3 linked regions of the Homo sapiens genome follow. The protein of the gene in region 2 purifies or fractionates together with the protein of the main gene of each other region. This does not show direct contact. Each region holds a gene or a part of one and is shown on either strand. Other genes may lie near its edges. The genes, in order: FBXO11, ZNF71 and PUM3.

Region 1 (3,751 bases), on a different chromosome or scaffold from region 2:
TCATGATTATCACTTAAAAAGATAATTTTCTTTCTTTTTCTTTTTGAGACAGAGTCTCACTCCCGTTGCCCACACTGGAGTGCAGAGGCGTGATCATGGCTCATTGCAGCCTTAACCTCCCAGGTTCAAGTGATCCTCTTGTCTTATTTTTTGATTTTTTTTTGTAGAAATGAGGTCCCAGTATGTTGCCCAGGCTGGTCTCAAACTCCTGGGCTCAAGTAATCTGCCCACTTCAGCCTCCCAAAGTGCTGGGATTATAGGCGTGAGCCACTTCGCCTAGCCTAAAAAGATAATTTTCAGTAAAAATACTTTGAACTTAATTTGTCCTATATCTTCAGTCCATTTATATCCTATCAAGCACAATGAAATCTTCAAACTGGAGTAATGGCTAACTATTATCATTTCTGGTACAGTGAGCAATGCTGTTTTGTTCTGCTGCTCTTCATTCTCATTTCTCCTTTGTAATTTTTCTCTTAAATGTAAGGTGTGGGCCGGGCACAGTGGCCCATGCCTGTAATCCCAGCACTTTGGGAGGCCCAGGCAGGAGGATCACCTGAGGTCAGGAGTTCAAGACCAGCCTAGCCAACATGGTGAAACCCTGTCTCTACTAAAAATACAAAAAATAGCTGGGCATGGTGGGAGGTGCCTGTAATCCCAGCTACTCAGGAGGCTGAGGCAGGAGAATTGCTTGAACCCGGGAGGCAGAGGTTGCAGTGAGTCAAGATTGTGCCACTGCACTCTAGCCTGGGCAACAAGAACGAAACTCCGTCAAAAACAACAACAAAAACATATATATATATGGTGCACCTTTTGTGCATCATAAAAGTAATACATATAACCGTTGTAAAACAAAGAAGTGTAAAGAACTATAGTTTCAATATATTAACTATTAACAGTCTGCCATATTTGCTTCCACTCATTTTATCTACAGATCATTTATTATAGTTGTGATTATATAGCATATACAATTTTGTACTCTGTTCTTTTCTTTAAAAAACAGGGTCTCCGTCTGCCGCCCAGGCTGCAGTGCAGTGGCACGATCACGGCTTTCTGCAGCCTTGACTTCCTGGGCTCAAATGATCCTCCTGCCTCAGCCTCCGGAGTAGCTGGGACCACAGGCAGGAGCCACCACACCTGGCCTCTTTTCACTTTTTATAACAGCATTTTTTTCATCTTATTAAAAACCTGGGCTGGGTGCAATGGCTCATGCCTATAATCCCAGCACTTTGGGCGGCCGAGGTAGAAGGATCACTTGACCCCAGGAGTTCAAGATCAGACTGAGTAACAGAGTGAGACCCTTTGTCTCAAAAAAAAAAAAAAAAAAAAAATTAGCTGGGCATGGTGACACATGCCTGTGGTGCCAGCTACTCAGGAGGCTGAGGTGGGAGAATGGCTTGAGCCCAGAGGGTTGAGGCTGCAGTGAGCTAGGAGCGTGACACTGCACTCCAGCCTGGGTGACAGAGCAAGACCCTGTCTCTCAAAAAACAAATGAAAATCTCTTTGTAAAAATTACTATTAGTGGTTATATCACAACTCTCCAAGTACACATTACACAGTTTATGTAGTTCATTCCCTTAATTCTGGATATTTAGATTATTTATAATTTTTCTCATTATTAACTAGGCTGTTACGAAAAATCTGTACATAAAGCAAAAAAAACTTTTCAGAAGTAGAATTACTGGGTCAAAGGGCATGACCCAGTAATTACTGGGTCAAAGGGCATGAATTATTTAAAGATTCATGAATACAACTGTTTTCCAAAAGTGATATATAAAACCTACATTCTAATCTATCAGATTTAAAATTCATTAGCTATTTTAAATTACACTGTTATGTTTCTAAAAAGCTACTAAAAGAAAAACATTTCCCATAATCAATCAGTTGCTATTAACTGATAAACAGCAGATAAAAGACTTCATTTACTGATTTATAAATACCACCTGGACTGACAGCCCCCATTTGTAACTTGGAATTGATAAGCATTTTAATTTTGTTCCAACTAATTGTAACTACCAACTCACCGCACCGACTTTCCTACCATGTTTAGCATTTTGGGCAACAAATAACATATCTCAAGTTAATAAGGAATAGGTTTTTACTTACCACAAAATTGGATCATTAGCAAGTTCACTGAAGCGTTTACATACACAAGCTGCTCTACAAAGATCCTGTTCCAGCAAGTAAGAGAAGATTTTTAGAACCACTTCATCTGGCAGTTTCTCCTGAAGATACTGTTCAGCAGGTGCTGCTATAAAGAGATTAACATATAAACTATCATTCGAGCAATAACTTTCTCATTATTTAAAGAACACAGTTTTCATTTTATCTAATGAATAGCTTTTTTTTTTTGGATAATGGTCATTTTATAAGCATGTGGGTTTCATGGGTAACACATATTTATCTCTATCCTGAACTAACAAAAGTACTCCTTCTTTTAGGTATTATGTGCCATCTCAGAAATGGTTAAAATAAATACATAAAAAGCATTTTTATACAACAATAAAAGTCAGAGGGAGAGGTCAGGGTTCTAAAGTTTATTCTGTAATAATCACTTTCTGAATCCCAAAGGTAATACTCGAATACACTTAATTTTCATTTTTTGGTATCAAGCAAAATTAAAAAAAATTATTTTACCCTATTTGTTACTTTCCCACAGGAAATACCTGATAGATCTTGTGATTTTCCAGACACTCTTGCACGTTTTGCACGATGACCAAAGTTTTCTGTAGTTGAAGTTGAGGCGCCCTTCAAAAACAAAACAGAAACTAGTAAAGCAAATATTCTTATCATCCATAATCATTACTTCTAAAAAAGGATGACATTCCCTTTTTTGTTTCTTGAAAATTCTTTCATTACAAAAAGAAAAGCAACTACAGTTAAAGTTACCTCCATACTGTTCTTTGTGGGACACGCTGTTCTTTTCGGCAAAAGAGTTTTTCTACGAAGTTGGTATGGACTATTTTGTGCACCAGGACCTGATTCTTCTGCAACCATATCTGCAGGCACATCATCATCTGTTATAAACAAAAGCAATAAGAAAAATTATACCCTTTTTAAAAAAAGTTCTATGGATACAGAAAACTTTCTTAAAACTTCAAATTCGGGAGGGAGCAGATGTAAGTTTTATATGAAATTCCAACCAACTGGATAGCTATATGAAAGAAATGTTAGATTTCTATAAAATGTGGAAGATTTTTTTTTTTTTTGAGACAGAGTCTCGCTCTGTCGCCCAGGCTGGAGTGCAGTGGCGCAATCTCGGCTCACTGCAAGCTCCGCCTCCTGGGTTCACGCCTTTCTCCTGCCTCAGCCTCCCGAGTAGCTGGGACTACAGGCGCCCGCCACCACGCCCAGCTAATTTTTTGTATTTTTAGTAAAGATGGGGTTTCATCGTGGTAGCCAGGATGGTCTTGATCTCCTGACCTCGTGATCCACTCACCTCGGCCTCCCAAAGTGCTGGGATTACAGGCGTGAGCCACCACGCCCAGCCGTGGAAGACTTTTTTTTAAAAAAAGGTGAGGAGGATATCCACTTGCTGAGAGGAGTGGGAAGGGAACTGGTACTACATGGTTAGAGACCATATATGGTGAAGGCAGCTTGGCAAGGAGTGTGTCTATGAAGAGGAACGGCTCAATATAGTGCATGAGATACCAGGTAGGTTAAAAAGGGTGTCAGAGGGTAGTCTGGTGTATGAACATCTTTTTTTTTTTTTTTTGGAGATAGGGTCTCATTCTGTCACCCAGGCTGGAGTGCA
Region 2 (3,751 bases):
GAAAAATATATAGAGAACATAAAATGTACCATTTTAACCACTTATAGGAGTACAGTTCAGTGGCCTTAAGGACATTGATGTTGTTGTGCAGCCATCACCGCCATCCATCCCCACAGCTCTTTTCATCTCCCGCAAATGAAACCCTATCCCCATTAAACACCAACTCCCACCCACTCCTCAGCCCCCGGCATCCTCTGTTCTACCGTCTGTCTCTGGGAATCCGACCTCCAGGTACCGCAGATGAGTGGAATCACATGGCATCCATCCTTTCATGTCTGATTTATTTTACTAAGTCTCTTTGATGGGCTTTGCTTTTTTAAAAAATGTTTTTCATGGGGAAAGTCTGAAATCCCAAGTTTCGTATCGGATGTGTTAGGCTTGGGCTATCCAGTTGAGATGCTGGGCTTTTTTGAACAGTTTGGACATAGCCCAGAAAGCAGGTCTGGGCTGAAGGTGTATGTTTGAGCAGCATCAGCCTGTGGATAACGTTTAGATCCAGACTCACTTTGTGTGGCTTTGAAGGTCCAGTGTGATTCAGGAGAGTGGTCTCAAACTCAGGTGGCCTCAGGAACTACCAGGTGGATCATTTATGTGGAGGAGGGGGACAGCTGCTGCCCCATGCAATGTCTTGTTGCCCATAAGAATGAGGCTCCACGTGGCCATATCTTCATGTTTTTTATGAGCTAGCAGCCACATGGACAGCAACTTTTAAATGCTGGGAATGAGTCCCCTGATGCAGAGTCTAGACTCCACCTAGGCTAGAAATCGAGGTTTAGAAATGAACAGGATACACGTGGAAGGTGATTGAAGCTGTGGGCACAGAGGTATTTAGCCAGGGAGGGTGGATGAGCAGAGAAAGAGGGTCTGAACCCAAGCTCCACGGAATGCCTGCCACCCAAGAACTAGGCAGCGTGTGACGTAGCAACAGAAGCAATTGTGAGACCCCAAGTCATGTGATTATTGTGGGCTCAAGTGAGCGGTCCTGTGTGTATGAACACTTAGTGCTGAGGCTGATGAGAGGGCTGGGGTGCGGGAGGGCTGGGGCCAGCCAGGGCAGGTGCGTGATGAGCTAGCGGGAGCCGGAGCCCCAGCCAGGGGAGAGGATCTTGCAGCCAGCAACCCTGGGGCAGCCATACCAGAGAAGTGGCAAAGGGGCAGGAGAAATGCCCGATTTTTCTCTCATTTCACTTCCAGTTTCCTGCCTTTGGCCAAACACACAGGAAGCCAGTGGGCAAAGTCAGCATCCTGAGCACAGGGCAGGTCAGAGAAGGGTGGAGAATAGAAAGTGGGTCGAAGGAGTAGAGAATAACCAACACATGCCATATAAATGCTAGCTATTTATTATTTCTTTATTCTTTTTCTTCTTTTTTCAATATTTATTTATTTATTTATTTTTTAAGAGACAGGGTCTCACCCTGTCACCCATGCTGGAGTGCAGTGACGTGATCATAGCTCACTGCAACCTCGAATTCCTGGGCTCAAGTGATCCTCCCACCTCAGCCTCTCAAGTAGCTGGGACAATAGGCATGTGCCACCATGCCTGGCTAATTTTTAAAAAAAAATTTAGTAGAGGCGGGGGTGGGGGGTCTCACTATGTTGCCCAGGCTGGTCTCAAGCAATCCTTGCCTCAGCCTCCCAAAGTGTTGGGATTACAGGCATGAGCCACTGTGCCTGGCCATCTTATTATTTCTGATAAAAACTGTTGCTTGAGGAGCACGACTGGTTGTGGATCTGCAGGATGAAGTGAGGAGGCCCTGCAAGTCAGTAGCCGGCTGCAGTCATTCCTACTCAGGTTTGCAGAGCCTGCCCTTTGCTCCCTGCAAGCCCAGCTCACTACTGCAGTTTCTCTCCAGGAGTGCCTGTCATCCCTCTTCTGAAGGGACATTTGCTCTCCCTGTTCACCTCCTGTGTTGACTCTGCTTCATAAACCACATTGGCCTCAGTTCCATGCCTCCCTCCTCCCTCCCTCTCTGATCCAAGGTTCTTCTTTGCTAACTCGCTCTGTGCCTTGGGCCTCATTGGGGTCGGTTTCATTTGCTCCTTCCTGCTGTGGAGCTTCCTCACTCCCAGCATCTTTAACTACATGTATTTGCATCTTCTGTTTTTGTTTTTTTCAGACTGGGAGACTAGACCTGAAATGAAAGAGTTGGATCCAAAGAATGACATTTCGGAAGACAAGCTCTCCGTTGTTGGGGAGGCCACGGGGGGACCCACGAGGAATGGTGCCAGGGGTCCTGGCTCAGAAGGAGTGTGGGAACCAGGCAGCTGGCCAGAGAGGCCGCGGGGAGATGCAGGTGCAGAGTGGGAGCCATTGGGAATTCCCCAGGGGAACAAACTCTTAGGGGGCTCAGTACCCGCATGTCATGAACTGAAGGCATTTGCCAACCAAGGCTGTGTCCTGGTCCCACCACGGCTGGACGACCCCACAGAAAAGGGGGCCTGTCCACCCGTAAGGCGTGGCAAGAACTTCTCCAGCACTTCAGACCTCAGTAAGCCCCCCATGCCCTGCGAGGAGAAGAAAACCTACGACTGCAGCGAGTGTGGCAAGGCCTTTAGCCGAAGCTCGTCCCTGATAAAGCACCAAAGGATCCACACGGGAGAAAAGCCGTTTGAGTGTGACACCTGTGGGAAGCACTTCATCGAGCGCTCGTCCCTCACCATCCACCAGCGGGTGCACACGGGCGAGAAGCCCTATGCCTGCGGGGACTGCGGCAAGGCCTTCAGCCAGCGCATGAACCTCACTGTGCACCAGCGCACGCACACGGGCGAGAAGCCGTATGTGTGCGACGTGTGTGGCAAGGCCTTCCGGAAGACTTCCTCTCTCACCCAGCACGAGCGGATCCACACGGGGGAGAAGCCCTACGCGTGCGGGGACTGCGGCAAGGCCTTCAGCCAGAACATGCACCTCATCGTGCACCAGCGCACGCACACCGGGGAGAAGCCGTACGTGTGCCCCGAGTGCGGGCGAGCCTTCAGCCAGAACATGCACCTGACCGAGCACCAGCGCACGCACACCGGGGAGAAGCCGTACGCCTGCAAGGAGTGCGGCAAGGCCTTCAACAAGAGCTCCTCGCTCACCCTGCACCAGAGGAACCACACCGGCGAGAAGCCCTACGTGTGCGGCGAGTGCGGCAAGGCCTTCAGCCAGAGCTCCTACCTCATCCAGCACCAGCGCTTCCACATCGGCGTGAAGCCGTTCGAGTGCAGCGAGTGCGGCAAGGCCTTCAGCAAGAACTCCTCGCTCACGCAGCACCAGCGCATCCACACCGGCGAGAAGCCCTACGAGTGCTACATCTGCAAGAAGCACTTCACGGGGCGCTCGTCCCTCATCGTGCACCAGATCGTGCACACCGGGGAGAAGCCCTACGTGTGCGGCGAGTGCGGCAAGGCCTTCAGCCAGAGCGCCTACCTCATCGAGCACCAGCGGATCCACACCGGCGAGAAGCCGTACAGGTGCGGCCAGTGCGGGAAGTCCTTCATCAAGAACTCCTCCCTCACTGTGCACCAGCGGATCCACACGGGCGAGAAGCCCTACCGATGCGGCGAGTGCGGGAAGACCTTCAGCCGCAACACGAACCTGACGCGCCACCTGCGGATTCACACCTGAGCGCCTCTGTGCAGGGCTCTCACTGGCGGTGCCCAGGACGGACGCCAGATGGCTGCGCGCTTTGTCAGCAGTGCTGTGAGAAGTTCTCCCCTGGGGTGGGGACTCGGGGTCAGGGGAGCTCAGGAATGTGGGGTTGTGGAGGGG
Region 3 (3,751 bases), on a different chromosome or scaffold from region 2:
TAATAATTATAAGTTCAATGATTCTGGGCCCAAATCTCTTTTATCTATTGGATTATATCCATTACAGAAAATTATACTTTTTAATCCCAATACCATGTCTTACTCTCAAATATGCAACATATAGCCTTTTGAGTAGAACTGGATTTAAACAATCAAAACAAAAATAAAAAATTCTTTCCTTGATTATAAAACCACCTAGAGAGTAGAGAAATGTAAAATAAAAGCTACCCATGATTCTACCACTAAAGATAAACACTGGTGTCAGTTTGGTATGTTTCTCTAGTTTTAAGCATATAGCAGAGCTATTATTTATATACCTTTGTATTCTGCTTTAATGATGGTCTACACAGAATTTTCAAGAGTTCAATAACAAAAGAAGTCTTAAGAAATGACTTCTTGAACATTCTTGAAATTTGGAAAGTATATCATAAGGACATCTAAAATGTTAATTTTAAAATTTTCTAGTTTTAAGAAAATTTTAAAGCCTATATTAAAATTATTTATCAAAAACTTTTGATCAAGAAGGCTTACAAATTAGTACCTAACAAATGAGATGCAAACAGTAATGGCTAACATTAAGGAAACATTAATCATTTGTATAGTCCCTTGACTTTTCTGTTTTACAATACTGACACCTGATGGAATAATAAAGACATCACCATTATAAATTCTGAACCTAAACGTATTTGGCTTATGAGCAGTATGTATTAAACAGTCCTAATTTATCAAATGTTAAAATAAAATGTATGGTGAACTAGTGTGAATAAAATGAGGCAACAGCAGCAACAACTGAGATAAGGAGTCTTTCATGAATAAGGCATTCCTCAATCATTCTTGCAATTTCTTAAGTGTCTAAATGTCATGAGCAACATGTTAACTCATACACAATAACACATACTTCTTCCTACTATTTTAATCCTAATCCTAGCCAATGAATACAGATTGAAATTTACTACATGCCCTCCCATCCCCCAATTATAACAGCCAAACACCCACATGGGAAGCATATCTTACCACTATTTTTATGAAATCTGTTTTTTTCTTGTGCTGTCTTTGTACTCTTTCCTGTGAATTGCTTTTTCCCTTTAACTTCCATCGTAGCAACTCTGGAAAACCAAAACCAAAACCAAAAACAATCACTGCAGTTCTCTTCATCAAATAAGAGCTGTTTCATAGTCATTGCCACATTTAGTCCTTCAGTCTACAAATACAATACAAATCAGCCAGATATAGAATGGACAAGTACTTAAATCCAGCAATTTTGCAATCACTGACTCAAATTTTAAAACTGAAAATGAACAAGGTATCAATAAAAAAACTAAGAACAACACACACCCTGGCCAGTGTTTGATATCTCTGGAGGCATCACTTCACTTCCACAATAGTACTGGCTAAAAATAGACCACTATTGACACTAAGTATAATAAGCATCAGAGTTTGCATTTTGTAACCTGGGAAGACTAGGGGATGAATAACTGACAAAATTATCGCTTGATTTCTTGGAGCCTAAAAAGCCAGGAACAAACAATAGGCTGCATGTACCACTACATGCATTTAATATAAGAAAATAAAGGATTATCTGAAAGATTCCTATGCAATCCAACACAGCTAAAACAAAGATTAGCATCCAGTGTTTAATCTGTGATTGTTTTAGACGCAGCCAAGCAATTGGCAGTGAACTCCAAAATAAGATGTTGAAATAGTTAATATTTCATTGAAAGGAATCTGTCTAATAGGCGCTTTATAGGCTACTGAGACACCATGGTGCACAGGATAAACAAGTTATAACCCCTCACCTACCCAAGGTCCCTGAAAGCAGCAGAACAGATCAAGAGAAAAAGCCATTTGGCTCATTTCTCCACTTTCCAAAGTTGGACGATCAACTCATTTGAAAGCTGGCTGTAAACAACAGATGTTAGGGATCCCTAGACAACACCAGATATTTCTAGATTAGAATTGCCCATTCAAGAACTAATTTCTCAGGATATTACCATAAGAGAAAAGAAGGGTTCTGGGATAAAATATATTTGGGAAACAGTAAGTTAAATGACAAGAATCAGCCCGTAAGAAAAGGCTTTTCAGATTCTTTAATTTGCTAATATATACAATCAATTCTCAAGCAAAGGCTAAAGGATGCAGGATTTTCCAACTCCAGTTGAACCACTTTTTCCTGGAACATCATAAGGGAACAGCAGACTTCCAAGGAGTACTCTGGAAAGTGCTGTTCTAATCTAGACTTTTCTAATGATTTTGAAAAATGGACAGTCCCTGAATTACTCAGCTTCCTCAGGGCATTTAGAACTGAAGGGTCACATTATTACTTGGCTATGGCCATCATAACCATACCTGCATCTCTCAGCTCTTCTACACCTGTAGTTTTCTAAGAATCCATTCATTTACATGTTTTCTCTGTATGTTTGTTCTAATTTTTATATTGAAATAATTTTAGCTTTACAAAAGAGTTGAAAAGATACACAGTTCACATATACCCTTTCCCCAGCTTCCCCTAATGTTAACATACAGTTAACTAAGCTACAGAGTTGAGTTGGAGTTTACCAGTTTTTCCACTAATATCCTCTTTCTGTACCAGGATACACTGAATCTGGCCATCAAGTCTCCTTTGTATTTTGTAGAATATTCCTCATTTGGGGTTTGCCTGATGTTTTCTCATGATTAGGCTAAGGCTACACATTTTTTGGAAGACTACCAGAGGTCAAGCTTTCTTCTGGTAGTACTCTATCAAGAGGTACATGACATTAACATGACTTATTACTGTTTATGTTAACCGTGTTCACTTGGTCAAAGTAGTGTTTTCCAGGTTTCTCCACTGTGAAGTTGCCACTTTAACCTTTCCATCTTTATTAGATCCAAACCACCAAGTCCAGCCCAAAGTCAGAGGAAAATTAAGCTCCACTTCCCAGAAGGAGGGGTACTAAAGAATCCAGGCATACGTTAAACTACCACAGCAATTAATAAACATTTTAGACAAGATGTTTGGAGAATATGTAGACATCCTATGTCCTCCTAAGTTTTACCTGCTAACTTTAGCATTTGTCGGTGGATATCGCCTGCAGCAATTACTGCATTTAAATGGTGATCTTCTATTTCTCTTATTACTTTTGCCTTTGTTATTCTCAACTTTTCTGTAGGGAAGACTTGTCCCATCTTTTCCATCTATTTACTTGTATCATATAGTCTCAGATATTTATTTCATTCCTTGGTTATAATCCAATACCACTGTTATTTTGTTGCTCAAATAATGCTAGCTCCAGCCAGGGGGAAGTTTCTCAGGTTGCTTCTGTGTCCTTTTGACGCGGCCCAACTGTTTTGTTTTGCTTTTAAAGCACATCCTTATTTCCTGGCACTGGCTCCAGGTTCCTTCTGTATTTTCCTTAACCTAGCCCTGAAATCAGCCACTTCTCCAAGGAATCCTGGTTCCTTTCATTGAGAATGGTATTTAAAAACCAAGATCTGAGTGCTAGGCGCACTTGTTGTCACTGAGGTGTCCCTGTTTCTATGTCCTTTCGGCAGACAGATTCAGGAAACACATATATGTATATTAACTTATGCATATGCACATACCTATATTTATTTTTATATCTATTACAATAACTTGAAGCTCATACTGATGTTTCCAAATCTAATCAAGCACCACATATTTTCCTCCAGGCATCTCCTCTTGCTCATTTGTAACTTCCTTCTCTGACAGTGAGCAACCTGCTTCCCACCATCTACAATTTATTTATACACA

What was found.
Region 1: the proteins of ZNF71 (region 2) and FBXO11 purify together in Homo sapiens (affinity purification with mass spectrometry; 2 studies listed by BioGRID and IntAct, with this or other methods). This does not show direct contact.
Region 3: the proteins of ZNF71 (region 2) and PUM3 purify together in Homo sapiens (affinity purification with mass spectrometry; 2 studies listed by BioGRID and IntAct, with this or other methods). This does not show direct contact.

Annotation. Positions count from the first base shown.
Region 1 is NC_000002.12:47,836,756-47,840,506, forward strand, and holds part of FBXO11 (F-box only protein 11), read right to left. Parts: intron 3,015-3,751; coding exon 2,887-3,014; intron 2,746-2,886; coding exon 2,664-2,745; intron 2,249-2,663; coding exon 2,104-2,248; intron 1-2,103. UniProt on the Homo sapiens protein: Substrate recognition component of a SCF (SKP1-CUL1-F-box protein) E3 ubiquitin-protein ligase complex which mediates the ubiquitination and subsequent proteasomal degradation of target proteins, such as DTL/CDT2, BCL6, SNAI1 and PRDM1/BLIMP1.
Region 2 is NC_000019.10:56,619,151-56,622,901, forward strand, and holds part of ZNF71 (endothelial zinc finger protein induced by tumor necrosis factor alpha), read left to right. Parts: intron 1-2,117; coding exon 2,118-3,607; 3' UTR 3,608-3,751. UniProt on the Homo sapiens protein: May be involved in transcriptional regulation.
Region 3 is NC_000009.12:2,837,412-2,841,162, forward strand, and holds part of PUM3 (pumilio homolog 3), read right to left. Parts: intron 1,107-3,751; 5' UTR 1,097-1,106; coding exon 1,015-1,096; intron 1-1,014. UniProt on the Homo sapiens protein: Inhibits the poly(ADP-ribosyl)ation activity of PARP1 and the degradation of PARP1 by CASP3 following genotoxic stress. Binds to double-stranded RNA or DNA without sequence specificity. Involved in development of the eye and of primordial germ cells.